Regions from separate parts of the Homo sapiens genome. Here region 1 is linked to region 2. The links come from fine-mapping of genetic effects on gene expression. A gene starts in region 2. The other region holds a variant in brackets. All regions are shown on one strand. Distances are from middle to middle. Region 1 has its middle 16 kb from the start of ST6GALNAC2. Region 2 holds the start of JMJD6 (jumonji domain containing 6, arginine demethylase and lysine hydroxylase).

Evidence for each region. PIP is the estimated chance that this variant, and not a neighbour inherited with it, causes the effect.
Region 1: its variant is the best candidate, but not a certain one, in a credible set for the expression of JMJD6 in whole blood (TOPMed, PIP 0.63).

The regions. Positions count from the first base shown.
Region 1 is chr17:76,598,801-76,604,170 of GRCh38, forward strand. No RefSeq gene overlaps it. Among named protein-coding and RNA genes, the nearest start is that of ST6GALNAC2, 16 kb to the left of the region's middle. RefSeq lists a silencer at 2,287-2,581 and enhancers at 2,432-3,631, 2,958-3,505, 3,506-4,052. The variant C/T (reference allele first, on the strand shown) is at 2,491.
Region 2 is chr17:76,724,146-76,729,444 of GRCh38, forward strand. JMJD6 (jumonji domain containing 6, arginine demethylase and lysine hydroxylase) reads right to left here and starts at 2,461. Exons shown (of 6, transcript NM_015167.3): 1 at 2,202-2,461; 2 at 1,322-1,710. The coding sequence starts at 2,330. METTL23 (methyltransferase 23, arginine) reads left to right here and starts at 2,694. Exons shown (of 5, transcript NM_001080510.5): 1 at 2,694-3,033. RefSeq lists enhancers at 2,334-2,963, 3,594-4,222, 4,880-5,299 and silencers at 2,385-2,514, 2,625-3,074.

The DNA.
Region 1 (5,370 bases), 130 kb before region 2:
ACCTGCCTCAGCCTCCTGAGTAGCTGGGACTAAGGTATGCACCACTACACTCAGCTAGTTTTTTGTATTTTTTTGTGCAGATAGGGTTTCGCCATGTTGCCCAGGCTGGTCTCAAACTCCTGGGCTCAAGCGATCTGTCTGCCTCAGACACCCAAAGAGATTACAGGCATGAGCTCCCGTGCCTGGCCATCACATACTTCTTGAAAAACTCTAGATGCTGGACCTGGTTGCTGGGCAAATACAAAGCTGTAAGCAGGTTAAAAGAGAATGGCTAATTTGGGAGGACTGCACAACCAGAGGAAGGGAGACCAAAGGAAAGGAGACACCCAGAACTGTCTCCTACTGAAGGAGAATGAGGAAAGGACCAGGTGGGAACTTTAATCAAACAATTATAAGTGTCCTTGCCGGGCGCAATGGCTCACGCCTGTAATCCCAGCACTTTGGGAGGCCAAGGCAGGCCGATCACCTGAGGTCAGGAGTTTGAGACCAGCCTGGCCAACATGGTGAAAACTCGTCTGTACTAAAAATACAAAAATTAGTTGGGTGTGGTGGTGCGCACCGTAATCCTAGCTACTCAGGAGTGTGAGGCAGGAGAATCACTTGAACCCGGGAGGCAGAGGTTGCAGTGAGCTGAGATCGCACCATTGCACTCCAGCCTGGGTGACAGAGCAAGATTCTATCTCAATAATAATAATAATAATAATAATAATAAGCATCCTTGGGCCGGGTGCGGTGGCTCATGCCTGTAATCCCAGCACTTTGGGAGGCCAAGGTGGGCGGATCACCTGAGGTCAGGAGTTCAAGACCAGCCTGACCAACATGGCGAAACCCCTTCTCTACTAAAAATATAAAAATTAGCTGGGCATGGTGGCAGACACCTATAATCCCAGCTACTTGGGAGACTGAGGCAGGAGAATCGCTTGAACCCGGGAGGTGGAGGTTGCAGTGAGCTGAGATTGGCCCAATGTACTCTAGCCTGGGTGACAAGAGGGAAATTTCATTTCAAAAAAAAAAAAAAAAAGGAAGTGTTGCAAGCTTCCAAGGGCAAACGCATTTCCGTAGAAGGGAAAGAGAATTAACCTAACATTGGACTCTCTCTTGTTTCTAACATGAGAAGCTGGAGAACAATTTGGCAAGAGGACAAGTTTCTTGTGAGACGCGTGGGTATATTTATACATTCACAAATGCCCCCAGCCAGAAGTGATGTGTGTCTCCACGCCCAGCTAAGCACTGTGATGAATGATTCTGCTCTGGTTGTCTAAATGGTGTCTGCCTAAGTGAGAAACCTACCTATTCCCTTGGCCCAAACCCCTTTCTTGCCAAGCCTCTCTTCTGTACCCAAATTGTATCGCCTGACATGGTCCTGATTTCACTAGCCCCTGACTCTGAGACAATGATACTCATTGCTGTTTTCTAATACCCCCGAAGCAACGAGCAAGGTTAGACGAGTCCGATGAATCTGTAAGAGAGGAATTCTCCACCCATGCCTGGGGTTGGCTGTGTCAAGAGTTTGTCTTTCATCTCCTCCTACGCTCAGGAGTGCTGTGTCTGTGCAAAATGGCAGGGCGTGCAGACCCTGTTTCTTCCTGCCCTCGCGCTCAGCTAAGGGTAGACACCATATCGTGCATCACCTTGGGTGTGCTATTTGCCTTGAGTTTTTTTTTAGGTGGGGCTGGGGGGACAGGGTCTTACTCTGTCACCCAGCTTGGAGTACAGTGGCGCCGTGATCATGGCTCACTGCAGTCTTGAACTCCTGGGCTCAAGCTATCCTTCCACCTCAGCCTCCTGAGTAGCTAGGACTATAGATGCGCACCACCACACCTGGCTAATTTTTGTACTTTTAGTAGAGATGGGGTTTTGCCATGTTGCCCAGACTGGTCTTGAACTCCTGAGCTCAAGGAATCCGTTTGCCTTGGCCTCCCAAAATACTAGGATACAGGCATAAGCCACCACACCCAACCTGCCTTGAGATTCTGAGGAAGCTGGTGTGTGCGTGAGTGTGTGTGTGTGAGTGTGTGTGTGTGTTTGTGTATGTGAAGGGGGTCGGGGTCAGGCCTCTAGTTCCCTGTTCCCCAGTGCCAACACAGAACTATTCTTTGTGCCCACCCAGTATGTGATAATCCAGAAAATGCCACATTTTTGTATAAACCGATTTGCAAACAATTTTGTAGATAAGTATAAATCCTCAAGCTTGGTACAGTGTACTTTTCTCCTTCTGTGAACACAATGTTTGACTTTAAGCTTTCCTTTAAATACCAGTCAAAGCAGGGAATAGTGACTTATGCCTGTAATCCCAGTACTTTGGGAGGCCGAGGTGGGCCGATCGCTTGAGCCCAAGAGTTCGAGACAAGCCTAGGCGACATCGTGAGACCCTGTCTCTACCAAAAAGAGAGAAAAAAAGTTAACTGGGTGTGGTGGCACATATGCAGGAAGCTAAGGTGGGAGGATCGTTTGAGCCTGGGAGTTCAAGGCTGCAGAGAGCTGCAATAG[C/T]GCCACTGCACTCCAGCCTGGGTGATGGGGTGAGACCCTCTCTCAAAAATAAATACATACAGTCAACAGGACATGTGAGGACTGCCATGGAGACCAGCATGAATGCAACACTATCCTCTGAGTACACTTTAGACTTTCCATTACTATCACCAGAAAGGGGTCCCAATCCAGACCCCAAGAGAGGGTTCTGGGATCTCATGCAATAAAGAATTTAGGGTGAGTCCAGAGTAAAGTGAAAGCAAGTTTGTTAGAGAAGTAAAGAAACAAAAGAATAGCTATTCCATAGGCAGAGCAGCCCCAAGAGCTGCTGGGTGGCTATTTTTTTTATTTATTTTTATTTTTAGTAGAGATGGGGTTTCATGGTGTTAGCCTGGATGGTCTCAATCTCCTGACCTTGTGATCCACCCGCCTCCGCCTCCCAGTGGGTGGCTATTTTTATGGTTATCTCTTGATCATATGCTAAACGAGGAGTGGATTATTATGTTTTCCAGGAAACGGGTGGGGATTTTTTGGAAATGAGGTTTCCTCCCCCTTTTAGACCATATAAGGTAACTTCTGAACGTTGCCATGGCATTTCTAAGCTTTCATGGTGCCGGTGGGAGTGACTTTAGCATGCTAATGCATTATAATTAGCATATAATGGGCAGTGAGGACTATTAGAGGTTACATTTGTTGCCATCTTGGTTTTGGCTGGCTTCTTTACTGCATCCTGTTTTATCAGCAGGGTCTTTGTGACCTGTATCTTGCGAGCTCCTATCTCACCCTATGACTAAGAATGTCTAACCCCCTAGGAATGCAGTACAGCAGGTCTCAACCTCATTTTACCCAGTCCCTATTCAAGATGGAGTCACTCTGGTTGAAGTGCCTGTAACATTACTAACACAAATATCTGTCCTGCTTCTGAATCTCTCTTGATCTCTCCAATGCACCCTCGACCCAGGAGCAACTTTTGGACCCTTTGCCTACTCCTCACTGCAAAAAAGAACAAGATCAAAAACTGCTGATCCTAGGCTGGGCATGGTGGCTCACACCTGTAATCCCAGCATTTTGGGAGGCCAAGGCAGGCGGACCGCCTGAGGTCGAGAGTTTGAGACCAGCCTGGCCAACATGGCGAAATCCCGTCTCTACTAAAAATACAAAAATTAGCCAGGTGTGGTGGCAGGCACCTGTAATCCCAGCTACTCGGGAGGCTGAGGCAGGAGAATCACTTGTACCTGGGAGGCAGAGGTTGCAGTGAGCCCAGATCGTGCCATTACATTCCAGCCTTGGCGAGAGAACAAGACTTTGTCTCAAAAAAAAAACAAAAAACCCAAAAAAACTGCTGACCCAGAAGCAGAGAATTGCGAGACGTGTTAGATCTGTACTTTAACCTTTTAAATCCTCTAAAACAGCTGAATTAGTTGTCTAAGTCCCAGGCATGTGAGAAAAGAGGAAAAATAATGTTAAATCCGTGAGTAACTGTGTGAGCCCTTGCACCAGTGACTCTGAAAGGCGGAAGAGAAAGAGAGACTGGGGTTGTTGAAAGATAAATTATGCTGCAACGTTTAATGGATAAGCCATGGTTTACCCACCGGTAAAACACTCAATTCCTGGCCCAGGCTTTGAATCATTGCAAGGGCACTCCTTGGGAAGAGGACATAGTTGGAGGCTGTTAGTCTGTTTTTACATTGCTATAAATACCTGACAGTGGATAATTTATAAAGAAAAGAGGTTTAATTGGCTCATTGTTCTGCAGGCTGTACAGGAAGCATGGTGCCCACATCTGCTTGGCTTCTGGTGAGGCCTCAGGGAGCTCTTATTCATGGCGGAAGGTGAAGTGGGAGCAGGCATGTCACTTGGAGAGAGAGCAATAGAGAGAAGGGAGAGGTCCCAGACTCTTAAACAACCAGACCTTGCATGAACTAACTGAGCAAAACTCACTTATCACCAAGGGGATGTTGCTGAGCCATTCATGAAGGATCTACCCCATGATCGAATCACCCCCCATCAGGCCCCACATCTAACATTAGGAATCATGTTTCAACATGAGGTTTGGAGGGGACACACATCCAAACCATATCAGAGGCCGTAGAGTTTGGAAGCCTGAACTTGCACTTGGGGTTTTTGGTCTAAGCTGGAAGGAGTCAAGAAAAAGGATGGGGCTGGGCGCGGTGACTCACACCTGTAATCCCAGCACTTTGGGAGGCTGAGGTGGGCAGATCACTTGAGGTCAGGAGTTCAAGACCAGCCTGGTTAAGATGGTGGAACTCCGTCTCTACTAAAAATACAAAAATTAGCCAGGCGTGGTGGTGCACACCTGTGATCCCAGCTACTCAGGAGGCTGAGGCAGGAGAATTGCTTGAACACAGGAGGCAGAGGTTGCAGCGAGCCAAGATCACACTATTGCACTCCAGCCTGGGTGGCAAGAGCAAGACTCCATCTCAAAAAAAAAAAAAAAAAAAAAGAGAGACAGAGATGGGAACTATGATTTTTTAAATAATTTTTTTTTTACTTTTTTTTTTTTTTTGAGACGGAGTCTCTGCTCACTACAACCTTTGCTTCCCAGGCTCAAGAAATTCTCCCGCCTCAGCCTCCTGAGTAGCTTGGATTACATGTGCCCGCCACCATGCCCAGCTAATTTTTGTATTTTTAGTAGAGACGGGGTTTCACCATGTTGGCCAGGCTGGTCTCGAACTCCTGACCTCAAATGATCCTTCTGCCTTGGCATCCCAAAGTGCTGGGATTACATGTGTGAGCCACTGTGCCCCACCTAATTTTTTTTTTTTTTAAATAATAGAGAAGGGGTTTTGCCATATTGCCCAGGCTGGTCTCAAGCAATCCTCCCACCTCAGCCTCCCAAAATGTTGGGATTACAGGTGTGAGCCTCCATACCTGGCCAGA
Region 2 (5,299 bases):
AGTCTTGCTCTATCACCCAGGCTGGAATGCAGTGGCGTGATCTTGGCTGACAGTAACCTCTGCTTCCCCAGGTTCATGTGATTCTCCTGCCTTAGCCTCCTGAGTAGCTGGGATTACCGACGCACACCACCACGCCTGGCTAATTTTTGTATTTTTAGTAGAGACAGGGTTTCACCATGTTGCCTAGGCTGGTCTCGAACTCCTGGCCTCAAGTGATCACCTGCCTCGGCCTCCCAAAGTGCTGGAATAACAGGCTTGAGCCACCGCACCTGGCCAGGTTTTAATTTTATGTGATATGTCATCTTTATTTCAGAGATTATATAAATTCTGGTACACAGAAACACTGGGTGCATTGTTCATGGACTGATTCCTAACAAAATAAGAAAAATCAGCTGGGGCGGTAGCTCACGCCTGTAATCCCAGCACTTTGGGAGGCAGAGGTGGGTGCATCACCTGAGGTCAGGAGTTCAAGACCAGCCTGACCAATACGGTGAAACCCCATCTCTACTGAAAATACAAAAATTAGCCGGGTGTGGTGGTGGGCACCTGTAATCCCAGCTACTCAGGAGGCTGAGACAGGAGGATTGCTTGAACCCGGGAGGCGGAGGCTGCAGTGAGCTGAGATTGCGCCACTGCACTCCAGCTTGGACGACAGAGGGAGACTCCATCTCAATGAAGAAAAAAAAAAGAAAAAAAAAGAAAAATCACTAATGTGGTTTATTGCTGGACTTTATTAAAACCTCCCTTAGAGATCAGTGCTTCAACCATAGCTGCACATTCAAGTCACCTGAAGAGCTTTCAGAAATTCTGATGCGCAGGCATCACCCGAATTAAATCAGTCTCCCCAGTAGGGCCCAGGCAGGCCTCAGGAGCCCCCTAAATGAGTTCAATGTACAGCCGAGGGAGTACTCACTGTTTCCAAAAAAGATTAGCAACTGAACTCAGCGAGCAAATGCTGTTGTAGATAAGATTTTAACCACAGGCCGGGCGCGGTGGCTCACACCTGCAATCGCAGCACTTTGGGAGGCCGAGGCGGGCAGATCACCTGAAGTCGGGAGTTCGAGACCAGCCTGACCAACATGGTGAAACCCCGTCTCTACTAAAAATACAAAATTAGCTGGGTGTGGTGGCGCATGCCTGTAATCCCAGTTACAGGAGGCTGAGGCAGGAGAAGCGCTTGAACTCGGGAGATGGAGGTTGCTGTGAGCCGAGATCGCACCACGGCACTGCAGCCTGGGCTACAAGAGTGACGCTCTGTCTCAAAAAAAAAAAAAAAAAAAAAAGAAAAGGATTTTAACCACTTAGCTGCAGAATACTTTACCTGTAAGGGGGCCTGCGCTTCTCCCCAGCATACTGGAAAAGGTCATCAGTGAAAAACTTTGGCACCTTGTAGTCTTCCAAAAGTTTCCTTCTTTTAGGGTGTTCACCATAGCTGCTGTCAAAGATGTAAAGGGGACTATCATCTCGAGTGCTCTCCATGTACTCGATGTAGTATTTCATCTTCATCTTCACTGAGTAGCCATCGTTATCCTCACCACACTTGAACTTCTGGTTCCGATATTTCCTTTTTAGGCGCTCCAGAGTCCATTTCTCCTGCGCAGACCAGCCCTCTTGCGCATTCAACAAAACCACGGGCTTGTAAGGTCTTTCATACCGCTCCACAAATTCTTCCACAGACAGCTGTAAAGCATCTGCCCTTTCCACGTTATCCTGAGGGAATTAAAAAAGACCTGTCCAGTTAAAAAAAAAAAAAAAGTCCAGTGGCAGATAAGGGTGTCCCCAAGGCCAACTGGTAATGACAAACCGAAGGAAGTTGACTCTCGTCTGGCTCCTCCGGGGTGGGGGCAGGGCGCGTGCGTGAGGCCACGTCGTTCCTAGAGCCACCCCCCATGAGCCTTGACAGCCAGGTCCCCTAGGGGACCCGCCGCCCAAAGGAGTCAGGGACGACGGGCCTTCTAGTTGAGAGCGCCACAGGCGTGGGACTCCCGTCGTCCGCCAGAGCAGACGGGCGGCCACAGCACGGGAGGAAGCAGACCCGCCCCGGAATCCGCGCCTCGGGGACCCCAAACTCCGCGGGGTGCGGGTGAGCCTCTACGAGGTCCCGGGCGCTCGGGGCGAGGGCAGCCTCGGGCCCAGAGAAAGGTGCGTAGCGGCTGGAGGTGCCGATGCCCGGCCTGGCCACCCCCGCCCGACCCGCTCACCGCCACGGCCGCCGGGCTCAGCGAGAAGCTCTCGTAGTAGTTGTGCCGGGTCCAATCCAGCGAGTCCTTGAGCTCCGGCCGCGCACTCCGCTTGGCCTCGCGGATGCGCTTCTTGCTCTTGTGGTTCATTCTGCGGGGTCGCCAGCTGGTTCCGCTACGACCTCGGCGCAGCCCGCTTCCTGACACTAACGCACCCCTCCCCGGCCTGGGCGGCGGCGACGGCAGTACCCAAACGCCCTTCGCTCAGTCCCGGCGCCTTTAAAGTCGCCTTCCAGAAAATTCACTCCCCAGCCACCTCCCGAGCCTCGGGTTGGGCAAGCGGCCGCCGTCTTCCCCGCCCCGACGCCTCTCGCGGTTTTCCATTGGCTTTGGCTCCCCTGGGGTACTCCTTCACATACGGCGGGCCTCCGCCATGTTGGGAAGGTCACGTCGGCTGCGTCACCGCCCCGCCCCGCCCCGCCCCTCCCCTCCCGCGCTGCCGCTGTGCCCATCACTTCCGGTCGCGCCAGCCGCCCGTTGCCAGTTCTGCGCGTGTGAGTCTCTTTCGCCTTGCTCCGGGCTTTCTTCGCTCGCAGCGCGGCAGGGTTATCACCAGATCTGGGCTTTCCCCTTCTTGCCGTCAGGTGCTACGGCCACGTGGCCCGCGGCTTCCCGCTCGCGCAGTCTGGCAGCCCGGAGCCTTCCGCGGTCCCCCGCCCGCCCGGGGCCCAACGACGCCCTACTGGGCGAGCACGATTTCCGAGGACAGGGGGTCCGGGCCCAGCGCTTTCGATTCTCGGAGGAGCCGGGTCCGGGGGCCGACGGGGCTGTCCTGGAGGTCCACGTCCCGCAGGTGCGTGCAGCAGCACCCGCCAGGAGGCGCCTGAGGTCAGGAGCGGATGTCGGCTGACTTGGCTGGGTTCCTGAGGGACCGGGGGTGCGGACGCTCAGCTGCGCAGCTTCCTGCTTTAGGTTGACCCCCGGAGCAAAAACGTCGGATATGAAGCCCTTCGGTGCATTAAATGTCTCTCAGTAAGAATTTTGGAGACCCTGCCAAGAAGTGACCCTGGTCACTATGTTGGTCAGGCTGGTCTCGAACTGTAAGCTTAAGTGATCCTCCTGCCTCGGCCTCCCAAAGTGCTAGGATTACAGGCATGAGCCACTGCGCCGGGCCGGCTTTCTCCACATCGAATCTTTCCTGCCAGGAAAGTGACATTCTTGACTGACCTCTAATGCTTCTTTTGATCTTGTCCAAGGGTTTCTTGATTCATCCTTATCTCTCACTTTTGTGTGAGTTTTGGGATCAGGGTTTCCAGTTTTATTTGGTGCCCAAAGTGTTTCTTGGGTTGGACCTCGCTTCTTCCTCTAAGCTCACAGCTACAACAAAACTCTCAATAATAATTCTTTTTCTTTTCTTTTTTTTGAGACACTGTCTCGCTCTGGCGCCCAGGCTGGAGCGCAGTGGCGCGATCACAGCTCACTGCAACCTCCAACTCCCGGATTCAAGTGATCCTCCCGCCTGCCTAAGTGCTGGGATTGCAGGAGTGAGCCACCATGCCCTGCCTGTCTTCGGTTTTTCAAAGCACTTTCACTTTGCAGTATTTCATTTGGTTTTAACACCAGCCTGTGAGGCATGTCCCATGCTAAAGAAACAGCTTTAGAGAAGTTAAATGGGAGGCGGAGGCGGGAGGATCGCTTGGGACCAGGAGTTCCAGACCAGCCTGGGCAATATAGTGATACTACGTCTCTACAAAAAGTAGAAAAATTAGGCATCGTGGCTTGTGCCTGTAGCCCCAGCTACTCCGGAGGGTGAGGTGGGAGGATTGCTTGAGCCCGAGAGGTCGAGGCTGCTGTGAGCTATGATCAGGCCACTGCACTCAGGCATGAGCAACAGAGCAAGACATTGTCAAGAAGAAAAAAAAAAAAAAAGACTGGAGTGGAGGCTATTTCTGATTGTTTCCAAACAGCTTCACTTTTTTTTGCTAACTGCAACCTCAACCTCTGGGCTCAAGTGATCCTCCCACCTCAGCCTTTCAAGTAACTGAGACTACAGGCATTGGCCACCACACCCAATCTGGCTTCACGGATTTTTTTTTTTTTTTTTGGAGATGGAGTCTCGCTCTGTCACCCAGACGAGTGCAGTGGCACAATCTCAGCTCACTGCAACCTCCGCCTCGTGGGTTCAAGTGATTCTCCTGCCTCAGCCTCCCAAGTAGCTGGGATTATAGGCGCCCACCACCATGCCTGGCTAATTTTTGTATTTTTAGTAGAGACGGGGTTTTGCCATGTTGGCCAAGCTGATCTTGAACTCCTGACCTCAGGTGATGCACCTGCCTCGGCCTACCAAAGTGCTGGGATTACAGGTGTAAGCCACCGCTCCCGGCTGGCTTCACGTTTAAATACACTTGCATTTCTTCCTAAATGTAGGGGGTGATGATATTGCCTGTGAGAATAGAAGCCTCTTTCCTTTTTTTTTTTTTTTTTTGGAGTTGGAGTCTTGCTCTGTCGCCCAGGCTGGAGTGCAGTCGCGAGATCTCTGCTCACTGCAAGCTCTGCCTCCCGGGTTCACGCCATTTTCCTGTCTCAGCCTCCGGAGTAGCTGGGACTACAGGTGCCCACCACCATGTCCGGCTAATTTTTTTGTATTTTTAGTGGAGTAGAGACGGGGTTTCACCGCGTTAGCCAGGATGGTCTCGATCTCCTGACCTGATGATCCACCCACCTCGGCCTCCCAAAGTGCTGGGATTACAGGCGTGACCCACCACGCCCGGCCATTTTTTTTTGAAACGTAGTCTCACTATGTTGCCCAGGCTGGAGTGCAGTGGCGCAGTCTCGGCTCACTGCAACCTCCGCCTCCCGTGTTCAAGCGATTTTCCCGCCTCAGCTGGGATTACAGGCACGTGCCACCATGCCCGGCTAATTTTTTGTATTTTTAGTAGAGACAGGGGTTTCACCATGTTAGCCAGGCTGGTCTCAAACTCCTGACCTCAGGTGATCCGCCCGCCTCATCCTCCCAAAGTGCTGGGATGACAGGCCTGAGTCACCGTGCCCGGCCCCTGACTAGAAATATCTTATTTGCTTGCTCGTTGCCTCTCTACAGTAGGATATGTGCTCAGGGA